Homo sapiens: one gene and its partners. The protein of the gene in region 3 purifies or fractionates together with the protein of the main gene of each other region. This does not show direct contact. Each region holds a gene or a part of one and is shown on either strand. Other genes may lie near its edges. The genes, in order: CDC42EP1, MTR, F12, PEX6, TEP1, NEU3 and ZMYM4.

Region 1 (3,213 bases), on a different chromosome or scaffold from region 3:
TGGGGGAGATGGCCGGTGGAGCCGGGGAGGGTGCAGGGGGAGATGCCATCCTCCGGGGGGGCGCCCCCACCCTCCGCACCAGCTGCAGCTTCTTGGCCAGGAAGCTGCGGGGTGAGCGATGGGTGCTCCCGGAGCTGCCACCGTGGTTGCTGAGGAAGGACGTGTCCCCGAAGACATCCCCGCCACGGCCCACATGCATGGTGTGGCGGAAGTCCCCGAGTGGGTGGCTGATCATGTCTGCAGTCAGCCGCCTCTTTCCCTGTGAACTGGACACCCAGCCCACAGGCGAGAGCTTGCCCAGGCTCATGGTGGCGGCGCCTCTGCCCCCCTGGGGGCCGGGCATCAGCTCTGGCTGCTCACAGCTGCTAGTCCATGCCTACCAGGGGCCGGGGGAGGGAGGTGGGCTGGGCTTGGGATGGCTGCTCAGCTCCTTTGCCCTGGCGGAAGCTGTAAATGGCACTCTCCTAAGGTGAGGTCCCCAAATGCAGAGGCTGTGGGGGGTTCATGGCTCGTCTCTCCCAGGGGCCCGGCTCCCAGCCCCTCAGAAGCAGCTATAGATGTTCAAGCGCAGAGAAAGCACCCCCGAGGTGGTCGGCAACTCTCCTGCCCAGAGGTGGAGACCTGGAAGGAAGACAGAATGGGCGGTGACGGCAGGCCCGCGACAGAGGAGGAAATCCGGGGTCCAAACATTAGCAGCTGAAGAGGATAGATGATCACACCCAACTACACGGATGGAGGCCTCCAACTGACGCGGGGCAGAAGCTAGGCACACGGGGACCCAAGTGAGTCTGTGTATAGAAAGTTCAAGAACACAGCCGGGTGCGGTGGCTCATGCTGGTAATCCCAGCACTTCGGGAGGTTGAGGTGGGTGGCTCACCTGAGGTCAGGAGTTCGAGACCAGCCTGGCCAACATAGAGAAACCCCGTCTCTACTAAAAATACAAAACTTAGCCGGACGTGGTGGTGCGCACCTGTAATCCCAGCTACCCAGGAAGCTGTGGCAGGAGAATCACTTGAACCTTGGAGGCAGAGGTTGCAGTGAGCCAAGATCACATCACGGCACTCCAGCCTCGGCAACAAGAGCAACATTCCGTCTCAAAAAAAAAAAAAAAAAAAAAAAAAAAAACAAGGAAGTTCAGTAACAGGCAAAACCAATTGATGCTATTAGCAATCAGAATGATGGCAGCCTCTGAGCAGGTACTGACTGAATAGGGGACAAATAATTCATTGAGCTATACACTTAAGCCATGTATCAGGAAAAAATAGAAGCACTCATTCACTCATTCTAAGTCTGAGCAACATAATGAGACCTGGTTTTTACAAAAAAATTTTAAAAAAATTAGTTGGGTGTGGTGGTGTATGCCTGTGGTCCTAGCTACTCAGGAGGCTAAGAAGGGAGGATCCTTTGAGCCTAGGAGGTCAAGGCTGCAATGAGCCATGATTGTGTCACTGCACTCCAGTCTGGGAGACAGAGCAAGACCTTGTCTCAAAAAAAAAAAAAAAAAAAAGGAAAAAAAAAAGAAAGCACTTATTCTGCAGGGCCCACTTATGAAGCACTTACTAAGTGCCAAGACCTCACCCGCCTCATCGTTTAAACCCATACAATACTCCTGAGGGGCTGGGCGCGGTGGCTCACGCCTGTATTCCCAGCACTTTGGGAGGCCAAGGCGGGTGGATCACGAGGTCAGGAATTAGAGACCAGCCTGGCCAACATGGTGAAACCCCGTCTCTACCAGAAATACAAAAAATTAGCTGGGCGTAGTGGCGGGCGCCTGTAATCCCAGCTACTCAGGAGCCTGAGGCAGGAGAATTGCTTGAACCCGGGAGGCAGAGGTTGCAGTGAGCCGAGATTGCGCCACTGCACTCCAGCCTGTGCGACAGAGCGAGACTCCGTCTCACAAACAACAACAACAACAAAAACATTACTCCTGAGGGCAGCATGAGATTAGAGAGGGGAAACTGAGGCACAAAGTGACGTAACTTGCCTGAGGCTACGTAGTAAGAAATGGTGAAACAGGCCCCACATCCCAGAGCCCTGGAGCCCCAGGCTACACTGCCTCCTGCTGAGTAACTGAGTAAGTCACCTCCCTTCTCTGTGCATTAAAATCTCTGCCACGCAGCGAAGCCAGGAGGGAGCAGACACCTCACCAAAGCTTTGTGAAGCTGGGTAAACAGCCAGAGCAGAGGTTCCTCTGAACCATCCACCTTCAAGGAGCTTCCTGGAATAAGGATCCTGTGGTCAAAAGTGGCTTTTTCCAGCTGCCTCCTCCATGCGTGAGCATATTCAAGTCTCTGAGAAGGCCCGCAGGAAAAGACTTTATCACAGTTTGTCAAACTGACGTAGGAGCCTTGCTGTCAGGGAGCAAGCTTTGGAAAAAGCTCAGCTGGTGCCAAAAGCTATTTCTTGTGCATCTCTCCTTCCTGATTCCCCACCCCCACCATACACACACACACATCCTCCCCTGCTCCAGCTTCTCTAAGCATCTCTTGTTCTGACCCCTTTCCTTCTAGTGTCATACAAAGTCCAGGCTAGAGCGCACCTGTGATCCTATGCTTTTCCTGTGGCCCACTGAGGGCAAAGCTGGCTAGAGGTCAGATCCACAGAGCTAGTTGAGACTTGAACTCAGAGCCTCTGACTCACATAAGCCCTTGACTGGCTTGTGGAGCCCAGTCTCGCCTCCCGAGATCGGCAATGCACTTGGAGGGTGGGGAGGCCGCCTGGATTTTCCTGCCTTTCTCCCTTGGGCATCTAGCTTGGGCTCTGCACTTAACAAGTGCCAAATCAATGCCAGCTGAATCACAGATCTCCATGATAACCTGCATGCCAAAACATCACCCTGGCCCCTTCTGAGAGTGGGAGGGCAGGCTGGGCTCTGTGTCCTCACAATGTGACCTTGGGCAAGTCACTTACCTACACAGACCTGGGACCTCAGCTGATAAAAGTCAATAATGATCCTTAAGAACACCTATGTCTGCGGCTCAGCCTTCTTCCTTTTTTAAAACCATTGCTGCCACCTCCAAGCATAGAAATCTCAATACTGCCCTTCTAATGTTATTTGAAATTCAAAATAGGTTAAATAACAAGATAAGAACAAAGAAGCCAATAGGACAAAGCTTGCTTTGTTTTCTGACTACATTCTCTTCCCTTCCCACCATCTGATCCTCCCCCAACCCTAACTCCTCCCCCTCGTGGGGGGGAACTTCTGAATCATCT
Region 2 (3,500 bases), on a different chromosome or scaffold from region 3:
AAGTACAATAACATACACTTGTAAAAATTTGAAACAGTGCAGAAAGAACGAGAAATAGCCAAACCATGAGTTCCCTCACCTCTGATCCCCTAATCCCATTCCGTGGAGGTAACCACTTAAAAATTTCTGTGTATCCTCTTAGACTTTTTATTTTTTATTTTTTAAGAGATGAGGTCTCAGCACAGGCTGGAGTGCAGCTGTGCAATCATAGCTCACTGCAGCCTCAAACTCCTGGCCTCAACCGATCCTCCCACCTCAGCCTCCTGAATAGCTGGGTTTACAGGCATGTGACACTGTGCCCAGCTCTTCTTGACGTTTTAATGCATATACTGGTGTATATTTCCTTATACACACACCGAATCAGAATATACTTTCAGTTCTACAATTTGACAATACACATAGCTGATTTATAGCAAGTATGCCATGAACTGAGGGTTTTGTTTTGTTTTGTTTTTGCAGGGCTGCCAATATGCTGTCTTCACGGGACGGTAAAGAAAGTATCACTTGGGCCGCATCTAATATGAAATACTGAAGGTGGGTGTAGAGAGGGTGCTAGGGCTTTGATACAGCGCTTTCTTTCTGAGAGAGAGAAAACCATCATGCTCCCCCCGCCCCGAACTCATTTAACAAGGCTTGATGGAGTGAACAATTTCATGGCAGGCACTGAGCTAGGCTCTGGGTATCCTGAGCTCAGGAAGAGGCAGGGCCCCTGCCCTCATGAGGCTTTACAGTCTGCTCTCCATCCAACTCCTGTCCCTAGAGGATCTGCTCAATTCAAGACAACCTTTACTGAGCACCTATCATAAAGCAAGCACTATTTTAGACGCCATATAAAGATGAGTAAGGTTCCAAACCTGCCCTTAGGGAATGTTAAGTCTAACAGAGAACTAGATGAAGTTTCAGCAAGGGCTGTATGAAATGTGCATGGCGGTGTTACAGAGGCAAGAAGAGGGGTCACTTCACTTAGCTTTGGGGTGGTGGGAGGGAGGGGTTGGGAAGCTTTCCTGACTTGGGTGGAACCGGGGTGGGGTTATTCCAGACAGAGGGGCCAATGTGAGCAGGTACCTCCTTCAGGGTACAGCAGCAGTCTAGGGCTTCCAAGACATGAGGCAGGGTCAGACATGGAAGGCTTTGCATGCCTCTAAGGGGCTGGGATATATCCTAGGTCACGGGGAGATGGTTATTCAGGCAGCAGGAGGATTGAGGCGGGGGTGTAAAGAATCAGAGAGCCCACTCTTCCAGCTCTAGGAGGTGGGAACCAACCCGGCAGCCTGTGTTGCAGATGAATCCAGAGGAGAAATGATGAGAACCTTAACCAGGGCAGGCGTAGAGATGAACTTAAGACCTATCTAGCGCGTAAAATCGCCAGGGCTTGAGAACCAACTGGATGTGAAGGTTGAGAAAAAGAAAAGTGTTATGGTCTGATGTATCCCCCAAATCATGTTGAAATGGAATCCCCAGAATGATGGTGTTTGGAGATGGCATCTTTGGGAGGTAATTAGGTCATGAAGGTGGAGCCCTCATGAATGGGATTAGTGCCTTTTTAAGAGGAGGCCAGAGAGCAAGCTTACCCTCCACCCACTGTGAGAACATGAGAAGCTGGCCGCTGCATCCCAGAAGAGGGCCCTCACCAGAACTCGGCCATGATGGCACCATGATCTTGGACTTCCAGACTCCTGAACTGTAAGAAATAAACATCTGTTCTCTATAAGCTAACCAGTTTGTGGTATTTTGTTACAGGAGCAGGAGCTAAGACTGGAGGGGTCAGGGGCAACTCCCAGGTTGATGGTGTTACTGACTGGCAGAAGAAATTCAGTCTCCCTGGAAGTTGGGTTAAAATAATTGTTTTTAAAGACTTCTGCACTATCTGCAACCCTCTGTACTTGTGCTTTACCCTCAGCATATAATCCTTTTTCTGTCTGAAACACTCTCAATCCTACCTTTCCCTCCAATCTTCTTTAAATGAGTCAACAAGTCTTCCACACCTCCCATTGTCTTCAACCTAGCAAAGCCAGCTGTGTGCCAACAGTCCCCACAATCCCCTGACGCTGCTCTTGAGGGGCTCACTGTGAGAAGGGCCCTCAGCAATCCCATTCCCAGGCCTCTTTGCAGCATTGGGTTCTGCTGGCATGCTTCGAAACGCTCTTCATTGCTTTCTCGGCATTGCACTCTCCCTCCTGGCTTCCTCCAACCCACAGCTGCTCCCCTGCTGGCTCCCCCTCCTCCTCCTCCAGATTCTCTTCTCCTCATATGCTCCATAGATGATCCCATCGCACTGCAGCCTGACCTCCATCTCCACGTTCAAGTCTCTCAATTCTAACTCCAGACATTCTTTTTAAATTCCAAAGTCTAGTATCCAACTGCCTATATTCAGTCTAGTCACATCGAATCTTTCCAAAACTCATCATTTCTCCCATCCCCTGGCCTCTGTCTTAGCAAATGGTCCAGCCATCCACTCATTCCCCAAAGCCTGGTATCTGGGCACTGCTGGCAGCAGCAAGGATGCACCACTCTCCTGCCCCTCACCTTTCTAGCTGCTGTTTACCCTAAGATGTTCTTCCTTTCCTTAAAAACTGTATTTGACATATACAAACATTACCTACAAAATCACCATACCAGATTTTAGGTTATCATTCCACTTTGCCTTTATTTTTTATAATATATTTAAGTAGAACATATTTAATATGTAAAAAACTGTTATCTATTAGTTATAAAGTATAATGTATTAATAGCATATAGTAAACACTTGTAAGCCTACCAGGAGGAACCAGAACAGCTGCATAACTTGGCATCTACCTATGTGCTCCTGTCCCTTCCACTTCCTCCTTCTGTGGGTAATTACTATGCTCAATTTTGGTTTATCAGTTACCTTCTTTTTTTTTAATAGCATAGTTTTATTGTATACGTATGCTTAGACTACATATTCTTTGGTTTTGCTTGTTTTTGGGCTCAATAAAAATAGTACGCCCCATGTGGTCTCTTCAAACTTGCTTTTTTCCTTAATATTTTCTGAGATTCATTCTTATTGTGAGGTATAGCTGTAGTTCACTCATTTCCACTACTGAATAATATCCCGTAGAATGAATATATATATCTAATTATTCACCTATTTTCCTGTAGACAGACATACATTTCACTTTTTCCAGTTATTAACTATTATAAATATGTAACTATGAACATTCTTACACATTCCTCCTAGTGGCCACATGCAAGAGTTTGCTGGACATACAGGTGGGAGTTGGAAGCAAGATCATAACGTCTGCAAATGTTCAAGTCTGTAAGGGATAATTGTTTTTTAAAGCAGTGGTGCCTGTTTACACATCCACAATGTTGTACAAGTCCCTACAGATCTAACAACTGGTACTGTCAGACCCAACCTTTGCAAATCTTATGGATATAAAATGGAATCTCATTGTGGTCCTAATTCATATTTCCCTGACCAATGCTACAGAACATCTATTTATTTAAAAGCCCTATTTCCTCTTGTGTAGTCTTCACTA
Region 3 (2,462 bases):
AGGGGCTGAGGACGGAGAGCCCGCGGCCGGCTGGCCGGAATCTAGCTCGCCCGGCGCCCTCTCGGCTCCTCCTTCCCCCCCCCACTTCCTAACCTCCCGGGGTCTGGGACTGAGGCGGGGTCCGGGTCGTGGGCTGAGGCTTCGGCGGTGCCGGCTGCGCGGGCATGAGTGGGACATGAAGCCTAGGGGACACCGGGGTCGGAGGCGCCGCCTGGGTTGGGGTCTGGCACTGTGCCAGGTCGCAGTACTCCCAGCTCAGCCGGTCGCGGTTCAGCACGAAGCACCACGGGCGGATGTCGTTGTCCGGGTTCCTGTAGCCACACGACGGGGCGCCGTTAGAGCGCCGGGAGCCCGGAGCCCTGGGGCGGAGGGGTCACCCAGCCCCACGCGGCGCACCGGCAGAAGGCGTGGCCGCCCAGTCCCCAGTTCCGCGCTTGCTCGGCAGTCACGTTCCGGTAGGTGGCCTCCGAGGCCCACGGCTGACAGGGCGCACCCGAGAGCGTGGTCCTGGCCAGGCCGCGGTAGCTGAGCCCGCGGCCATCATAGCAGCTTGCCTTGGTGTCTGAGGAGAAAGGGGGCTCCCTGGGCAGCCAAGGCTGGGCTCTCCTGCCTCCCTCTCATCTGCTTTCCGCACTCTCCCTCCTCCTTCCTGGCAAGCCCGTCCCACCTGGGGGCTGGCCTTCTGCTTGCCCCAGACCCTCACTCACCCACGTCGCAGAAGGCTCCGGTGTAGCCCACCGGGCAGTGGCACAGGCGGTGGCCCTCCACCTCTAGGCAGCGACCCCCATGGAGGCACGGGTTGGTGCGGCAGGCTTGGGGAGGGAACGCAGTGAGCCACCCCTGGGCCTAAAGACCCCCCCAGAGAGCTCTCCTTCCTGGCACACCACCCGGCCTCCTGCCAGCCTGTCTTCCTGACGCTCCTCCCTGGCCCGTTCCCAACCATCTGCTCACCCTGGCTGGCCAGCCGCTGGCAGTGGGCATCAGGACCCTTGCACTGGCATCTGGCCACAGCTGCTTGCTCAGTTCTATACCATATCTCATTCTTGTGGAAAAACCGGAGAAGCTGAGGCTCAAAGCACTTCTCTGGGGACAAAGAGGGATAGTGGTCTCAGGAGAGTCTAGGACCATGCCAAGTCTCCGAGTATCCAGCAACCTATTCTGTAGGCCCAGGGTTGCCCCTGTCCCCCAGCACCCCGCCCAGGTCCTCCACATCTCCTCACCTTTCTGGCAGTGGTTTCCAGTGAGGTGTTGTGGACAGAGACAGTGGGGGCCGCTTGGCATGTTCACACAGGTCCCTCCTTTCTGGCAGGGGCTGTGTTTGCTGCAGTGGTCTGAGAGATGGACATGGTGGAAGGAAGAGCAGGGAGCTGAGTCACACAGCTGGGGGCCAAGGCCCTTCTTGAACCTACTTGCCTTGTGACCTTGCTACTCCAAGTTTCCAAGCTTGGTTTACCCACCTGCAAAATGGGACCACTCCTTCCCAGAACTCTCCCTCTGGACTTCCAAAGGGTATTGTGGAGGGAGAGAAGGGGCTGGGTCCAGAATCCCAGGTGTGTGGGGTCTGGTGATACCAGGAGAGTAATGAGGCGGGAGGAGAGAGCCCCAGGCCACCCCAGAGGCTGTGTGTAGCACCTTTCACTTTCTTGGGCTCCAAACAGTATCCCCATCGCTGGTCCTGATCAAAGTTGGGGGTGGTAGCACACCTGTAGAAAGAGACAAGGCTTCCCTGCTCTACCCAGGGGCCTGGCCCACCCTGCCCTATCACAGTCCCCTCTCTCCAAGCAGAGTTCCTTGGACAGAAGGACAGGCAGGGTACATGTCTCCCAGGCCCCTGCTCCAACTCCTCTGCGTAGTCTTACCAGGGCTGAGGGCCTGGCCGGCCCTTGTGGGTACATTTGTGGTACAGCTGCCGGTGGTACTGGAAGGGGAAGTGGCAGGGCTCCCCGGTGACAGTGAGAACTGCAGGGACAACACACTCTCTGAGGACTTCCCCTGTACTCAACTGCTCAGGCACTGTCCCTCAGGGTCTGGTCAGGAAAAGGACAGACCCTCAAAAAGGTCGCTGTGCATTGAAAACACTTTCTGCTCTAAAAGTTGGGTTCAGGGCCGGGCGCGGTGGCTCAAGCCTGTAATCCCAGCACTTTGGGAGGCCAAGGCGGGCAGATCACGAGGTCAGGAGATCAAGACCATCCTGGCTAATACAGTGAAACCCCCTCTCTACTAAAAATACAAAAAAATTAGCTGGGGGTGGTGGCAGGTGCCTGTAGTCCCAGCTACTCGGGAGGCCGAGGCAGGAGAATGGTGTGAACCCGGGAGGCGGAGCTTGCAGTGAGCCGAGATCGCGCCACTGCACTCCAGCCTGGGTGACAGAGTGAGACTCCATCTTAAAGAAAAAAAAAAAAACTTGGGTTCAGGAGTCAGATAGCTGGAGTAGACTCCTGACTCCACAACCTGCTAGCTGT
Region 4 (2,908 bases), on a different chromosome or scaffold from region 3:
ATGCCCCGGCCAGAGCACCGCAGGTGGTGTGGGAGACACAGCCTCACTACATGGGGACAGCCCTGTCCTGGGGTCAGGGAGGCTCAAGGAGAGAAAAACAGGGTATCTGCTTTCTAGATCTAAGGGATCTTGTGTTACTGGGGACTCTAATGTTTGGGCAAAATGAAGGAGACGAATGTCTGTTCTCTGGTTGCAGGGGTGCCCTGCTGACAGGAACTAGCAGTGTCCTTCTACGGGGCCCCCCAGGCTGTGGGAAGACCACAGTAGTTGCTGCTGCCTGTAGTCACCTTGGGCTCCACTTACTGAAGGTGAGGGTCTCTGGAGAGTAGAACCCCAGCTACTTCCCCTCCCCAGCTCATGTTCTCCCTCTCTGCTGCTTCCTCTCCCCTCCCTCCTCTGTCTACTCACAGGCCCTAGCACTTCAGCCCAGTGGGTCAGGCATATTCCCATGATGCTGAGCTATGGAGAGGTACTTTCAAGGAGGAGGGAGTTGCAAGATATTGGTGGACAGTCCAGGGAATGGGATAGGGTAAAAAAGAGGTAGGACTTGGCCAGGGTACCTTCCCTGTCCCTGCCCTCCAGAGAAAAAGATGGCCCACATCTTCCACCTCCTCCTCCCCTGATTCTCCTGCCCTTGTCATGCTTTCCCCTTGCTCACAGACCCATTGGGATCCCCTCCCCAGGTGCCCTGCTCCAGCCTCTGTGCAGAAAGTAGTGGGGCTGTGGAGACAAAACTGCAGGCCATCTTCTCCCGGGCCCGCCGTTGCCGGCCTGCAGTCCTGTTGCTCACAGCTGTGGACCTTCTGGGCCGGGACCGTGATGGGCTGGGTGAGGATGCCCGTGTGATGGCTGTGCTGCGTCACCTCCTCCTCAATGAGGACCCCCTCAACAGGTACTTATACAGAGCTGGGCCTCTCAAAGCTGGGGGGGCCGGCTGGGCGCGGTGGCTCACACTTATAATCCCAGCACATTGGGAGGCCGAGGCAGGTGGATCACCTGCCTTGATCAGGAGTTCAAGACCAGCCTGGCCAACATGGTGAAACCCTGTCTCTACTAAAAATACAAAAATTAGCTGGGTGTGGTGGCGGGTGCCTGTAATCCAGGCTACTTGGGAGGCTGAGGCAGGAGAATCACTTGAGCCCAGGAGGCGGAGGTTGCAGTGAGCCAAAATCATACCATTGCACTCCAGCCTGGGCGACAAGAGCAAGACTCAGTCTTAAAAAAAAAAAAAAAAGGGGGAGCGGGGGGGCCAGCCCTCCTACTTTTCAGCCTTTCAGTCCTCCCTTCTCTCACCCCTCAGTGGCTTCTCAGTCATCTCCCATCCATTTGGCTGCCCTCTAGACAGCCCTGAGCTCCGTGTCTTTAGAGGGATCCAGAGGGAGGAGTCTGTGGTCTAGCATTTCTTGGGGAACACTCGGTTAAAGAAAAAGCCTCTGCCCTCAATGTGATGGGGGAAACACAGTTCCCCCATCTAGGAACTGGGGTAGATGCTCATCTCCCTACCCCATCCTAGCACCCACCTCACTTCCCTGCCCTTCTGTGCCGACTTTGGGACAAGGCAGTCCACAGGAGCTGCCAGCCATGTTCTCACCCTCAGTGCCCACTCCTCTGTCTGCAGCTGCCCTCCCCTCATGGTTGTGGCCACCACAAGCCGGGCCCAGGACCTGCCTGCTGATGTGCAGACAGCATTTCCTCATGAGCTCGAGGTGCCTGCTCTGTCAGAGGGGCAGCGGCTCAGCATCCTGCGGGCCCTCACTGCCCACCTTCCCCTGGGCCAGGAGGTGAACTTGGCACAGCTAGCACGGCGGTGTGCAGTGAGTATCAAGGGAGAGTACTGGCCCTCCCTAGGAGGTCCCTGGCTTTTGTTACAAGAACTCAGTCCTGTTGCCTTGTGAGTGAGAGTAGAAAACCCAGCGCGGGCGCCGTGGCTCACGCCTGTAATCCTAGCACTTTGGGAGGCCGAGGTGGGCGGATCACCTGAGGTTGGGAGTTTGAGACCAGCCTGGCCAACATGGAGAAACCCCGTCTCTACTAAAAATACAAAGTTAGCCAGGTGTGGTGGCACATGCCTGTAATCCCAGCTACTTGGGAGGCTGAGGTGAGATAATCGCTTGAACCCGGGTGGAAGTTGCGGTGAGCCGAGATCGCGCCATTGCACTCCAGCCTGAGCAACAAGAGCAAAACTCCGTCTCAAAAAAAAAAAAAAAAAAAAAACAACAAACCTAAGGCATCAACAGAGGGCCTCTGCTCTAGCTGGGGGACGGTCCCTGAAGGTTCCTGCCTACTGTGCCCTGCTCATGTGTCCTTTCCTGTGGTTCCCTAGGGCTTTGTGGTAGGGGATCTCTATGCCCTTCTGACCCACAGCAGCCGGGCAGCCTGCACCAGGATCAAGAACTCAGGGTAAGAGGACGTGGGCACCGGAAAGGCGGAAAGAGGAAATGGATGTAGATGGGTGGGTGGTGAGGAAGGGAGAAGGGAATGGGACGCTGATGGTGAGGAGGCTTCCCTGTGTTCCTCTTTGCAGTTTGGCAGGTGGCTTGACTGAGGAGGATGAGGGGGAGCTGTGTGCTGCCGGCTTTCCTCTCCTGGCTGAGGACTTTGGGCAGGCACTGGAGCAACTGCAGACAGCTCACTCCCAGGCCGTTGGAGCCCCCAAGGTGGAGACCAAGTCCTTGGAGGTGGGACAGGAGCCCCTCCAAGAGCATATCCCAACCACGCACTTTCCATCTCCTAGATCCCCTCAGTGTCCTGGCATGATGTGGGTGGGCTGCAGGAGGTGAAGAAGGAGATCCTGGAGACCATTCAGCTCCCCCTGGAGCACCCTGAGCTACTGAGCCTGGGCCTGAGACGCTCAGGCCTTCTGCTCCATGGGCCCCCTGGCACCGGCAAGACCCTTCTGGCCAAGGCA
Region 5 (3,500 bases), on a different chromosome or scaffold from region 3:
TCTGCCTTCTTACCTCTGTTGCACTTCAGGTGGATACTTTAGCCTAACTCTGTACCCCTCTGTGAGAGTCCACCCTAGCCCTAGCCTACCACATAACCCTATTAAAGGTGCAGAAGTGGGGTTTTCATCTTGGGATGTTAGTGGGCAGTGACTGTGTTCCAGGTATTGTTTGTGATGGTTAATGACTGCTTCTTCCTTTGCCAGGTCAACAGATTTGAATCCCAATGATGTGACACTCTCAGGCTGTACTGATGCGATACTGAAGTGAGTACAGAATGGATACTGAAGGGTTGGATACTTTGTTGGAAAGTTTTTAGGAGATTATCTCTACTCCAGTCACTTTTTTTTTTTTTTAAGACAGAATCTCACTCTGTCGCTCAGGCTGGAGTGCAGTGGCACAATCTTGGCTCACTGCAACCTCCATCTCCTGGGTTCAAGCGATCCTCCTGCCTCCGCCTCCCGAGTACCTGGGACTACAGACATGCACCACCATGCCCGGCTAATTTTTGTATTTTTAGTAGAGACGGGGTTTCACCATGTTGGTCAGGCTGGTCTTGAACTCCTGACCTTGTGATCCACCCACCTCAGCCTCCCAAAGTGCTGGGATTACAGGCGTGAGCCACCGCACCCGGCTCCAGTTACTTCTTTTTTAAAGTGAGGTAGTTCACTCCTCTTTTACAGCCATCCAGGCATAGCAGCAACACAGTGTCACAGGGACCCAGGCACTTTCTCTCTTATTGCTCCATGATCCTCAAATACTCAGCTTCTACCTCATAATTCAATATGTCTGCCTGAGCTCCAGCCATCTTGGTATTCAGCCAAGTTTGTATTATATCCAGTAGGAAAGAAGAAAGGGGACATGGGAGACTTCACTGTCAAGAGTTGGCCATGTCACTGTGGCTTCTGTTCAATTCTTGATCCAGAGAAAATTATGTCTATTTAAGCTAAAATTACAGAAATCTTTTCACGTTTTTTTTATCTGTCTCTCCATCCTTTGCCTTCTTATTTACTTGTTTTCTCCCCTGGCTTTTCCTCTGGATACCATCCATTTCCCTCAACTCCTATGAGAAAGCCTCAGGCACATTCCTCCTTCTCCAGGGGGCCTTTATGGCTGGCACAGAGCTGCTCAAGCCCAGACTGGGATGGCTTTAATCTTTACACCTTTCCCTACCCCGTTGCCCCGGCCCAACAGCAAGTTTGTGATTACCACGCACAGCAGGAGGGGCTAGAGCTGGGCTTCTCTTTTCCTTCATTCCTGTGGTTCTGCATCCTCATTTATTTTAAGTCTGCATAAACTGCTTATGGTCCTCTTCTTAAGGAGCTTGACTTAACTGGTCACCAAACCTGGACATATCTTTTTCCCCCTGCCCTTTTCGGAAGACCTCACTGATTTCGACCTGTGGTATTCTACTCTCATTTATCTTGTTATTTATGTCAGGTTCATTGCAGAGCATGGGGCCTCCCATCTTCTGGAACATGTGGGCCAAATGGACAAAATATTCAAGATTCCACCACCCCCAGGAAAGACAGGGGTCCAGTCTCTCCGGCCACTGGAAGAGGACACTCCAAGCCCCTTGGCTCCTGTTTCCCAGCAAGGGTCAGTCTGTGTTTCTATGCCTTTGTGAATTGGGAGGGGCTGCAGTCAAACCTTGGGAAACCCTGGGGCTGAAATTCTAGCTGGTGAGGTGCCGCTTGTTCTCTTCATGAAGGCATGCTTCCTCTTTCTCAGGCGGAGGTTTCTCTACCACAGGGAGTTGTCAGATTGTGAGCAAGCCCTTCCTTTCTCTACTGAGGAAAGGAAGTCAGAATGCAAAGATGACGGCAGACATCATGGCCGTATGGCCAGGGCGTAGGCAGAGGGCTTAGGAGCACAGGTTCTGGCTTTTTCATTGTGGCTTTGCCAAATAGTAGTTTGAATCTGGCTTAGTTGCTTAATTTCTTTTTTTTTTTGAGACGGAGTCTCGCTGTGTCGCCCAGTCTGGGGTACAGTGGCGTGATCTCGGCTCACTGCAAGCTCTGCCTCCTGGGTTCACACCATTCTCCTGCCTCAGCCTCCCGAGTAGCTGGGACTACAGGCGCCTGCCACCATGCCCGGCTAATTTTTTTTTTGGATTTTTAGTAGAGACAGGGTTTCGTCATGTTGGACAGGCTAACCTTGAACTCCCGACCTCAGGTGATCTGCCCGCCTCGACCTCCCAAAGTGCTGGGATTACAGGCGTGAGCCATCGCGCCTGACCAGTTGCTTAATTTCTTAAAGCTATAGTTTCTTGCTGAGCGCCGTGGCTCACGCCTGTAATCCCAGCACTTTGGGAGGTCGAGGCGGGCAGATCACCTGAGGTCGGGAGTTCAAGGTTAGCCTGTCCAACATGACTAAACCCTGTCTCTACTAAAAATACAAAATTAGCCAGGTGTGGTGGCTCATGCCTGTAATCCCAGTTACTGGGGAGGCTGAGGTGGGAGAATTGCTTGAACCCTGGAGGCAGAGGTTGCAGTGAGCCGAGATCGCGCCATTTTACTCTAGCCTGGGCAACAAGAGCAAAACTCTGTCTCAAAAAAAAAAAAAGTTATCGTTTCTTGATTGCTAAAATGGAGATAATGATAGTGCTTACCTCACAGTGCTGTCATGAACAAGCAGTAAGTATATAAAAATGATTACCAGAAAAAAGAGAGGTGTACAAGAAATAGCAAGTGGGCATTAAATTCCAGGGCCCTGCAGTTGAGACCACTAGCAGGTGCTTCTCTGAAGGCCTGCTGGGCACCCATCTGCTGTCTGTCGTACCTGGCTTGTGCTCAGTGCTAAAGGGTGATCACAGCAGTGTCTATGGATGGGGGGTGGGAATCATCCCTAGACTGAGCCCAGCTCTCTGCTTATCCCCAGATGGCGCAGCATCCGGCTTTTCATTTCATCCACTTTCCGAGACATGCATGGGGAGCGGGACCTGCTGCTGAGGTCTGTGCTGCCAGCACTGCAGGCCCGAGCGGCCCCTCACCGTATCAGCCTTCACGGAATCGACCTCCGCTGGGGCGTCACTGAGGAGGAGACCCGTAGGAACAGGTGTGGGGGCTGCAGAGAAGAGGGGCTGGGTCGGGGATGAGGGGCTTGAGTGGTGGACCTGAGGTGGGCATGGTTGGGGCTGCAAGAATGGATGAGGGTGAAGGCGGGAGTCGCTCCTTGGATACTAACAAGAGCAGCCTACCTTTTCTTTACTCAGTTGCGAGTCAGGGCCCCGTCTCCCTGTTTGTGCCTATGTTCCCTGATACCATGCCCCCAGTGACTCCCACACGTCCCTATCATCATGCCTACAGACAACTGGAAGTGTGCCTTGGGGAGGTGGAGAACGCACAGCTGTTTGTGGGGATTCTGGGCTCCCGTTATGGATACATTCCCCCCAGCTACAACCTTCCTGACCATCCACACTTCCACTGGGTAAGGCAGACAGGTTTGGAGGAGGGCTGGGGAGGAAGCAAAGATTGGGGCAGAGGCTGGGAGAAGCCACACT
Region 6 (3,500 bases), on a different chromosome or scaffold from region 3:
GTTACTGCTCTTTGGCCTGGAAGCTACAGGGTTATTTCAGATCCCAAATAGGCATACGTCGGAGATATTGTGGATTTGGTTCCAGACCACCACACTAAAGTGACTATCACAATAAAACAAGACACATAAATTTTTTGGTTTCCCAGTGCATATAAAAGTTATGTTTACACTATACTGTAGTCTGTTAAGTGTGTAGTAGCATTATGTCTAACAAAAAGTACACACCTTAAAATACTGCTGAAAAGTGCTAATGATTATTTGAACCTTTGGCTAGTCAATCTTTTTGCTGGAGTGGGTCTTGCCCTGATGTTGGTGACTGCTGACTTATCAGGGTGGTGGTTGCTGAAGATTTAGTGTATTATTATTATTATTATTATTATTATTATTTTTCTAGAAGCATTTCTTACTTACATAGATAATTTCTTAAAATAAGACAATGGGCTGGGCACAGTGGCTCATGCCTGTAATCCCAGAACTTTGCGAGGCCAAAGTGGGAGGATTGCTTGAGCTCAGGAGTTCAAGACTGGCCTGGGCAACATAGCAAGACCTTATCTCTAATAAAAATAAAAAACATTGGGTGGGTTTAGTGGCACACATCTGTAGTGGCAGCTACTCGGGAGGCTGAGGGGGAGGATTGCTTGAGCCCAGAAGTTCAAGGCTCCAGTGAGCTGCGATTGTGCCACTGCCCTCCCGCCTGGGGGACAGAGCAATACCCTGTCTACCCCCAACAAGAAATAAGACAACAATGAAGTTTGCTGAAACAGTTGACACTTCCTTTCACAAAAGATTTCTCTGTAGCATGCAATGCTACAGAATTTGATAGCATTTTTCCCATAGTAGAACTTATAAATGAATCCTCTCAAACCCTGCTGCTGCTTTATCAACTAAGTTGATGTAATATTTTAAATCCTTTGTTGCCATTTTGACAATGTTTACAGCATCTTCACCAGAAGTAGATCCCATCTCAAAAAACTACTTTATTTGCTCATCTATAAGAAGCAACTCATTTATTCAAGTTTTATCATGAGATTGCAGCAATTTAGTCACATCTTCAGGCTCCACTTCTAATTCTCTTGCTATTTCCACCATATCTGCAGTTACTTCCTCTACTGAAGTTTTGAACCCCTCAAAATCATGAGTATGGGAATCAACTTCTCAATGTCTCTTAATGTTAATATTATGACCTCCCATGAATCATGAATGTTCTGAATGGCATCTAGACTAGTGGAATTTTTCCAGAAGGTTTTCAGTTTACTTTGACCAGATTCATCAGAGTAATCACTATCTATGGCAACTATAGTCTTATGAAATATTTCTTAAATAATGAAACTTGGAAGTTGAAATGACTCCTTGATCCGTGGGCTACAGAATGGATGTTGTATTAGTGGCCGTGAAAACAACATTAATCTCCTCATACATCTCCATCAGAGCTCCTGGATGACAAGGTACGTTGTCAATGACCAGTAATATTTTGAAAGGAATCTTTTTTCCTGAGCAGTAGGTCTCAACAGGGGGCTGTAAACAGAAGTGCTTCATCCAGGCTTTGTTTTTAGAGCACTGGCAGAGTAGATTTAGGATAATTCTTAAGAGCCCTAGGATTTTCTGAGTGATAAATGAGCATTGACCTCAACTTAAAGTCACCAGCCCGTCCTTTGAAGGTTTGAAGCCAGACATTGACTTCTCTCTAGCCATGAAAGTCCTAGATGGCATCTTTCAGTAGAAGGCTGTTTTGTCTACAGGGAAAATCTGTTGTTTGGTGTAGCCACCTTTGTCAGTTACCTTAACTAGATCTTCTGGATAACTGGCTATAGCTTCTCCCATCAGCACTTGCTGCTTCACCTTGCCCTTTTAAGTTACGGAGACAGCTTCTTGCCTTAAACCTCATGAACCATCCTCTGCTACTTTCCAACTTTTCTTGTGCAGCTTCCATACCTCTCTCAGCCTTTGTAGAACTGAAGAGAGTTAGAACTTTGCCCTGGTTTAGGCTTTGTCTTAAGGGAATGCTATGGCTGGTCTGATCTTTTATCCAGACCTCTAAAGCTTTCTCCCTATCAGCAATAAGGCTGTTTTGCTTTCTTATCATTCCTGTATTCACTGGAGTAGCACTTTTAATTTCCTTCAAGAACTTTTCAGCCTGGTGTGGTGGCTCACGCCTGTAATCCCAGCACTTTGGGAGGCCAAGGTAGGCGGATCACGAGGTCAGGAGTTCGAGACCAGCCTGACCAACATGCTGAAATCCCGTCTCTACTAAAAATACCAAAAAAAAAAAAAAAAAAAAAAATTAGCCGGGCATGGTGGTGCATGCCTGTAATCCCAGCTACTCAGGAGGCTGAGGCAGGAGAATCGCTTGAACACAGGAGGCGGGGGTTGCAGTGAGCAGAGATCGAGCCACTGCACTCCAGCCTGGGTGACAAAGGGAGACTCTGTTTCAAAAAAAAAAAAGAACTTTTTCTTTGCATTTACAGCTTGGCTGTTTGGCACAAGAGGCCTAGCTATCGGCCTGTCTTGGCTTTCAACATGCCTTCCTCGTAAGTTTAATCATTTCTAGCTTTGATTTAAAGTGAAAGATGGGGGACTCTTCCTTTCACTTGAACACTTAGAGGCCATTGTAGGGTTACTAATTGGCCTAATTTCAATGTTGTTGCATTTCAGGGAATAGGCTGAAGGAAAGGAAGAGAGATGAGGGAACAGTTGGTTGGTGAAGCAGTCAGGACACATATAGCATTTATCAAGTTCACCATGTAATATGGGCACAGTTGTCATACTCCAAAACAATTACAGTAATAACATCAAAGATCACTGATGAAAGATCACCATAACAGATTTAATAATAATGACAATGTTTGAGATATTGTGAGAATTAACCGAAACATGACAAAGACATGAAGTGAGCACATGCTCAGTTCAGGGTTGCCACAAACCTTCAGTTTTGTGGCAATATCTGACAAATGCAGTAGAGCAAAGTGCAATAAAATCACATAGGCCTATATTTCTTATTGTTGCTTTCCTCTCTCCCAGGGCTAGCTTAAGTGAGACAAATGAGACAATGGTTTTGAGAGTCTTTTGTAAAAAAAATATATAGTTGTGTCATCTCTCTATATCTACATAGTAGGCACTTTAATACTCCTAACCTACCCTGCTTTTTTACCTACAGATGTCTCAAATCTGACCATTAAATCTTCATATCCACAGCAGATAACCTTCTTCTGCTGTTAAAGTACACAGTGCAAATGCTATTCTGCTGAACATGGGCCTTGCCATCAATCCCTGTCTTTGCTTTTGATAACATTGGCTCACATTTCTCTTGGTGAAGTTTTTTACTTTGTGGGATTTTCAGTTCCTGCTCTTTCACCTTATCTTCTCATGAGTCTTTCTCATGGCCTCCCAGGACCAGACTTCTGCATGTATAACTAGCCTCCACAGAGGCCCAGCCCTACAGCCCAGTAGTACTTGGGATTCTAGCTCTTTCCTTTCTTCTAGGACAAGCATTGCCTGTGGTC
Region 7 (3,500 bases), on a different chromosome or scaffold from region 3:
TGTTGTGAAACTCAAATGTCAACACTGTAACCGTCTTTTTGCCACAAAACCAGAACTTCTTGACTATAAGGTAAAGTATAGCATGTTCATGATAAGATTTTGAGTATACGTGGGTCTATTTGTAAAATTATTTTTAACTTTGCATCTCTCAAAATCATACCATTTGTTTTGAAAGTAAGGGAGATAAGGAGTTCCATAAGACAAACCAAATGTTTAATTAGTACTTAATGATTATTTCTTTGCAGGGCAAAATGTTTCAGTTCTGTGGCAAGAATTGTTCTGATGAATATAAGAAAATAAATAATGTAATGGCAATGTGTGAATATTGTAAAATTGAGAAAATTGTAAAGGAGACTGTTCGGTTCTCAGGTGCTGACAAGTCATTCTGTAGTGAAGGTAAAGACAGAAGATTATCTTACCTACTGAGCATGTTGGTTGTTTTAAAGCAGTTGATGATGATTTAAGCTTTCACTGTCTAAGTTAATCTGTTTTATTGTTTATGTATAACGTAAATGCCTTTTCGATTCATTTACACTTAGTTCATTCTTTTTTGATCTAGTTTTCTTATATTATGTAGCTGTTAAAATGAAGTGAAAGATTTGCAAAGTATAATGCAGAAGAAGATGATGTGAAAAACATTTAACATCCTTAGGTTCCCCATTATTAGGTTGATCGGGACCTCAAAGAGCTTCTAGTTCGTGTACTTATTTCTAAATGGGATGCCTTAAATTATGGTAACATTCTAAGTTTATACTTTTATTGTCTTAAACAGCCATTATATTTCTGAATATAAATGGCTTGAATATGCAAATTAATATGTGGAAGATTGTTTTCCTTAGATAACTCTTCTATATGTTTATAATGTTTTATTTTACTCTAAAGCTGTATTAGCCTTCTAGAGCAAGGGCTTTCAAACCTTTTGATAACACCAAAGAAGAAATACATTTACACTGTGACCCAGTATATTTTCACATACCTAAATAAAAGTTTTTTTTGTTTTTGTTTTTGTTTTTTGAGACAGAGTCTTGCTTTGTCACCCAGGCTGGAATGCCATGGAGCGATCTTGGCTCACTGCAACCTCTGCCTCCTGGGTTCAAGCGATTCTCCTGCCTCAACCTCCCGAGTAGCTGGGACTACAGGCACCCGCCACCACACCTGGCTAATTTTTGTATTTTTAGTAGAGACAGGGCTTCACCATGTTGGCCAGGCTGGTCTCCAACTCCTGACCTCAGGTGATCCACCCACTTTGGCCTCCCAGAGTGCTGGGATTACAGGTGTGAGCCACTACGCCCAGCCCCAAAAGTTTCATGAAATAAAATCGATGCAGTTTAATATTTTCTCTTCTGTGCTATCCTGTCTTATATCATTTAAAACAAAAACAAAAACAAAGCAAAACAAAAACTAGTATAGATACTCTAAAAAATCAAGATACTCTGTGAACTGGTCAGGACCCAAGTGTGAAAACTTTGTCCTAGACCACTTATTTTTCTTTTTTTTGTTTTTGTTTTTATTTGACATGGGGTCTTGCCATGTTGCCCAGGCTGGTCTCAAACTCCTGGGCTCAAGCACTCCTCCCGCCAGCCTCCCAAAGTGTTGGGATTACAGGTGTGAGCCACTGCACCGGGCCTGTCCTAGGCCATTTAAAGTTGCAGAAAACTAATACTTCTACCTAATGTTAATTTTATCTTTCCTGATTTTTAGGTTGCAAATTGCTTTATAAACATGACTTGGCAAAACGCTGGGGAAATCACTGTAAAATGTGCAGTTATTGTTTACAGACATCTCCCAAATTGGTACAGAATAATTTAGGAGGGAAAGTGGAAGAGTTCTGTTGTGAAGAATGCATGTCCAAATATACAGTTTTGTTCTATCAGGTAAATAGAATTCACATTCCTGGGTTTTTCATTCTAGGGCATAAATTATTCCCTTTTAAAATTTCATGTCACATAAAGGACAATTTAATTATTTAAAACTTTTAAGTATTAAATGTTTTATGCCTTCTAGCAATTAATATAAGATTTAGAAAGACTTTAATGTTATTGAAGTTTTCTTTTGTTTTTAATTTCCTGTAGGAGACATATCAGTCTTAAGACATTAAAATATTTAAACTTATAATTTTATTCACTTATTATTTAAATAAAGTGAATTTGTCTTCTGAAGTCTGAGGAAGATAGACCTTATTTTTATTTCACTTTGTTTTTTAATTGCTATAGAGTGAAGTCTGTATGTTACATGTGTTTTTTAAAAAAAATTAGTATAAAATCAGCTGGGCGCGGTGGCTCACGCCTGTAATCCCAGCACTTTGGGAGGCCGAGGCGGGTGGATCATGAGGTTAGGAGATCGAGACCATCCTGGCTAACATGGTGAAACCCCGTCTCTACTAAAAATACAAAAAAATTAGCTGGGTGTGGTGGCGGGCGCCTGTAGTCCCAGCTACCTGGGAGGCTGAGGCAGGAGAATTGCATGAACCCAGGAGGTGGAGCTTGCAGTGAGCTGAGATCACGCCACTGCACTCCAGCCTGGGCGATAGAGCAAGGCTCTGTCTCAAAAAAAAAAAAAAATATATATATATATGTGTGTGTGTGTGTGTGTGTGTGTGTATAATCATTGATAAAGACAAACTAATTTTTTGATCTAAATTCTAAGTTAATTTCGTCACTTGTTATGTGTGTCTTATTTTTATTTTGTCAGACCACAGATAATTTGTTTCTTACTCCTTGACTACCTTCTTCTTTTTAGATGGCCAAATGTGATGCTTGTAAGCGACAGGGTAAACTCAGTGAGTCCTTGAAATGGCGAGGGGAAATGAAACATTTCTGTAACCTGCTTTGTATCTTGATGTTCTGTAATCAGCAAAGTGTATGTGACCCGCCTTCACAAAATAATGCAGGTAAAATTAACCTTAGGTACTGAATGGAGTCTTTGGTCAATACTAGGAACTACTGTTCTTTTACAGATCAGGAACTGTGTAAACAGTTGTCATTAATTTCATGAAACCTCAGTTTCCTTGTATTCTGTATCAATAACATTTAGCTTTTTTTGTTGAACACCTTATTTCACTGTCGTCCGTGTGAAGAGACCACCAAACAGGCTTTGTGTGAGCAACAAGGCTGTTTATTTCACCTGGGTGCAGGCGGTCTGAGTCTGAAAAGAGTCAGTGAAGGGAGATGGGGTGGGGCCGTTTTATAAGATTTGGGTAGGTAAAGGAAAAAGGGGGGTTGTTCTCTGGCGAGCAGGAGTGGGGGTCACAAAGTGCTCAGTGGGGGAGCTTTTTGAGCCAGGATGAGCCAGGAAAAGGAATTTCACAAGGTAATGTCATCAGTTAAGGCAGGAACAGGCCATTTTCACTTCTTTTGTGTTGGAATGTCATCAGTTAAGGCAGGAACCGGCCATCTGGATGTGTACCTGCAGGTCAGAGGGGATATGATGGCTTAGCTTGGGCTCAGAGGCCTGACACCTTAGATTAAAGCTGAGTAAAAATGAGTTTTTGATTAAATAGA

Evidence for each region.
Region 1: the proteins of F12 (region 3) and CDC42EP1 purify together in Homo sapiens (affinity purification with mass spectrometry; one large-scale study listed by BioGRID and IntAct). This does not show direct contact.
Region 2: the proteins of F12 (region 3) and MTR purify together in Homo sapiens (affinity purification with mass spectrometry; one large-scale study listed by BioGRID and IntAct). This does not show direct contact.
Region 4: the proteins of F12 (region 3) and PEX6 purify together in Homo sapiens (affinity purification with mass spectrometry; one large-scale study listed by BioGRID and IntAct). This does not show direct contact.
Region 5: the proteins of F12 (region 3) and TEP1 purify together in Homo sapiens (affinity purification with mass spectrometry; one large-scale study listed by BioGRID and IntAct). This does not show direct contact.
Region 6: the proteins of F12 (region 3) and NEU3 purify together in Homo sapiens (affinity purification with mass spectrometry; one large-scale study listed by BioGRID and IntAct). This does not show direct contact.
Region 7: the proteins of F12 (region 3) and ZMYM4 purify together in Homo sapiens (affinity purification with mass spectrometry; one large-scale study listed by BioGRID and IntAct). This does not show direct contact.

What each region holds. Positions count from the first base shown.
Region 1 is NC_000022.11:37,563,480-37,566,692, reverse strand, and holds part of CDC42EP1 (cdc42 effector protein 1), read right to left. Parts: intron 622-3,213; 5' UTR 344-621; coding exon 1-343. UniProt on the Homo sapiens protein: Probably involved in the organization of the actin cytoskeleton. Induced membrane extensions in fibroblasts.
Region 2 is NC_000001.11:236,899,792-236,903,291, reverse strand, and holds part of MTR (methionine synthase), read right to left. Parts: 3' UTR 1-3,500. UniProt on the Homo sapiens protein: Catalyzes the transfer of a methyl group from methylcob(III)alamin (MeCbl) to homocysteine, yielding enzyme-bound cob(I)alamin and methionine in the cytosol. MeCbl is an active form of cobalamin (vitamin B12) used as a cofactor for methionine biosynthesis.
Region 3 is NC_000005.10:177,404,103-177,406,564, forward strand, and holds part of F12 (coagulation factor XII preproprotein), read right to left. Parts: intron 1,960-2,462; coding exon 1,860-1,959; intron 1,704-1,859; coding exon 1,633-1,703; intron 1,627-1,632; exon of another isoform or gene 1,458-1,626; intron 1,332-1,457; coding exon 1,221-1,331; intron 1,084-1,220; coding exon 952-1,083; intron 813-951; coding exon 708-812; intron 563-707; coding exon 397-562; intron 312-396; coding exon 94-311; intron 1-93. UniProt on the Homo sapiens protein: Factor XII is a serum glycoprotein that participates in the initiation of blood coagulation, fibrinolysis, and the generation of bradykinin and angiotensin.
Region 4 is NC_000006.12:42,966,274-42,969,181, reverse strand, and holds part of PEX6 (peroxisome biogenesis factor 6), read left to right. Parts: intron 1-196; coding exon 197-308; intron 309-683; coding exon 684-892; intron 893-1,618; coding exon 1,619-1,814; intron 1,815-2,323; coding exon 2,324-2,400; intron 2,401-2,524; coding exon 2,525-2,657; exon of another isoform or gene 2,658-2,678; intron 2,679-2,734; coding exon 2,735-2,908. UniProt on the Homo sapiens protein: Component of the PEX1-PEX6 AAA ATPase complex, a protein dislocase complex that mediates the ATP-dependent extraction of the PEX5 receptor from peroxisomal membranes, an essential step for PEX5 recycling.
Region 5 is NC_000014.9:20,386,002-20,389,501, reverse strand, and holds part of TEP1 (telomerase protein component 1), read left to right. Parts: intron 1-204; coding exon 205-264; intron 265-1,438; coding exon 1,439-1,597; intron 1,598-2,878; coding exon 2,879-3,055; intron 3,056-3,306; coding exon 3,307-3,427; intron 3,428-3,500. UniProt on the Homo sapiens protein: Component of the telomerase ribonucleoprotein complex that is essential for the replication of chromosome termini. Also a component of the ribonucleoprotein vaults particle, a multi-subunit structure involved in nucleo-cytoplasmic transport.
Region 6 is NC_000011.10:74,995,433-74,998,932, forward strand, and holds part of NEU3 (sialidase-3), read left to right. Parts: intron 1-1,424; exon of another isoform or gene 1,425-1,445; intron 1,446-3,500. UniProt on the Homo sapiens protein: Exo-alpha-sialidase that catalyzes the hydrolytic cleavage of the terminal sialic acid (N-acetylneuraminic acid, Neu5Ac) of a glycan moiety in the catabolism of glycolipids, glycoproteins and oligosacharides.
Region 7 is NC_000001.11:35,387,209-35,390,708, forward strand, and holds part of ZMYM4 (zinc finger MYM-type protein 4), read left to right. Parts: coding exon 1-70; intron 71-245; coding exon 246-396; intron 397-1,701; coding exon 1,702-1,874; intron 1,875-2,739; coding exon 2,740-2,890; intron 2,891-3,500. UniProt on the Homo sapiens protein: Plays a role in the regulation of cell morphology and cytoskeletal organization.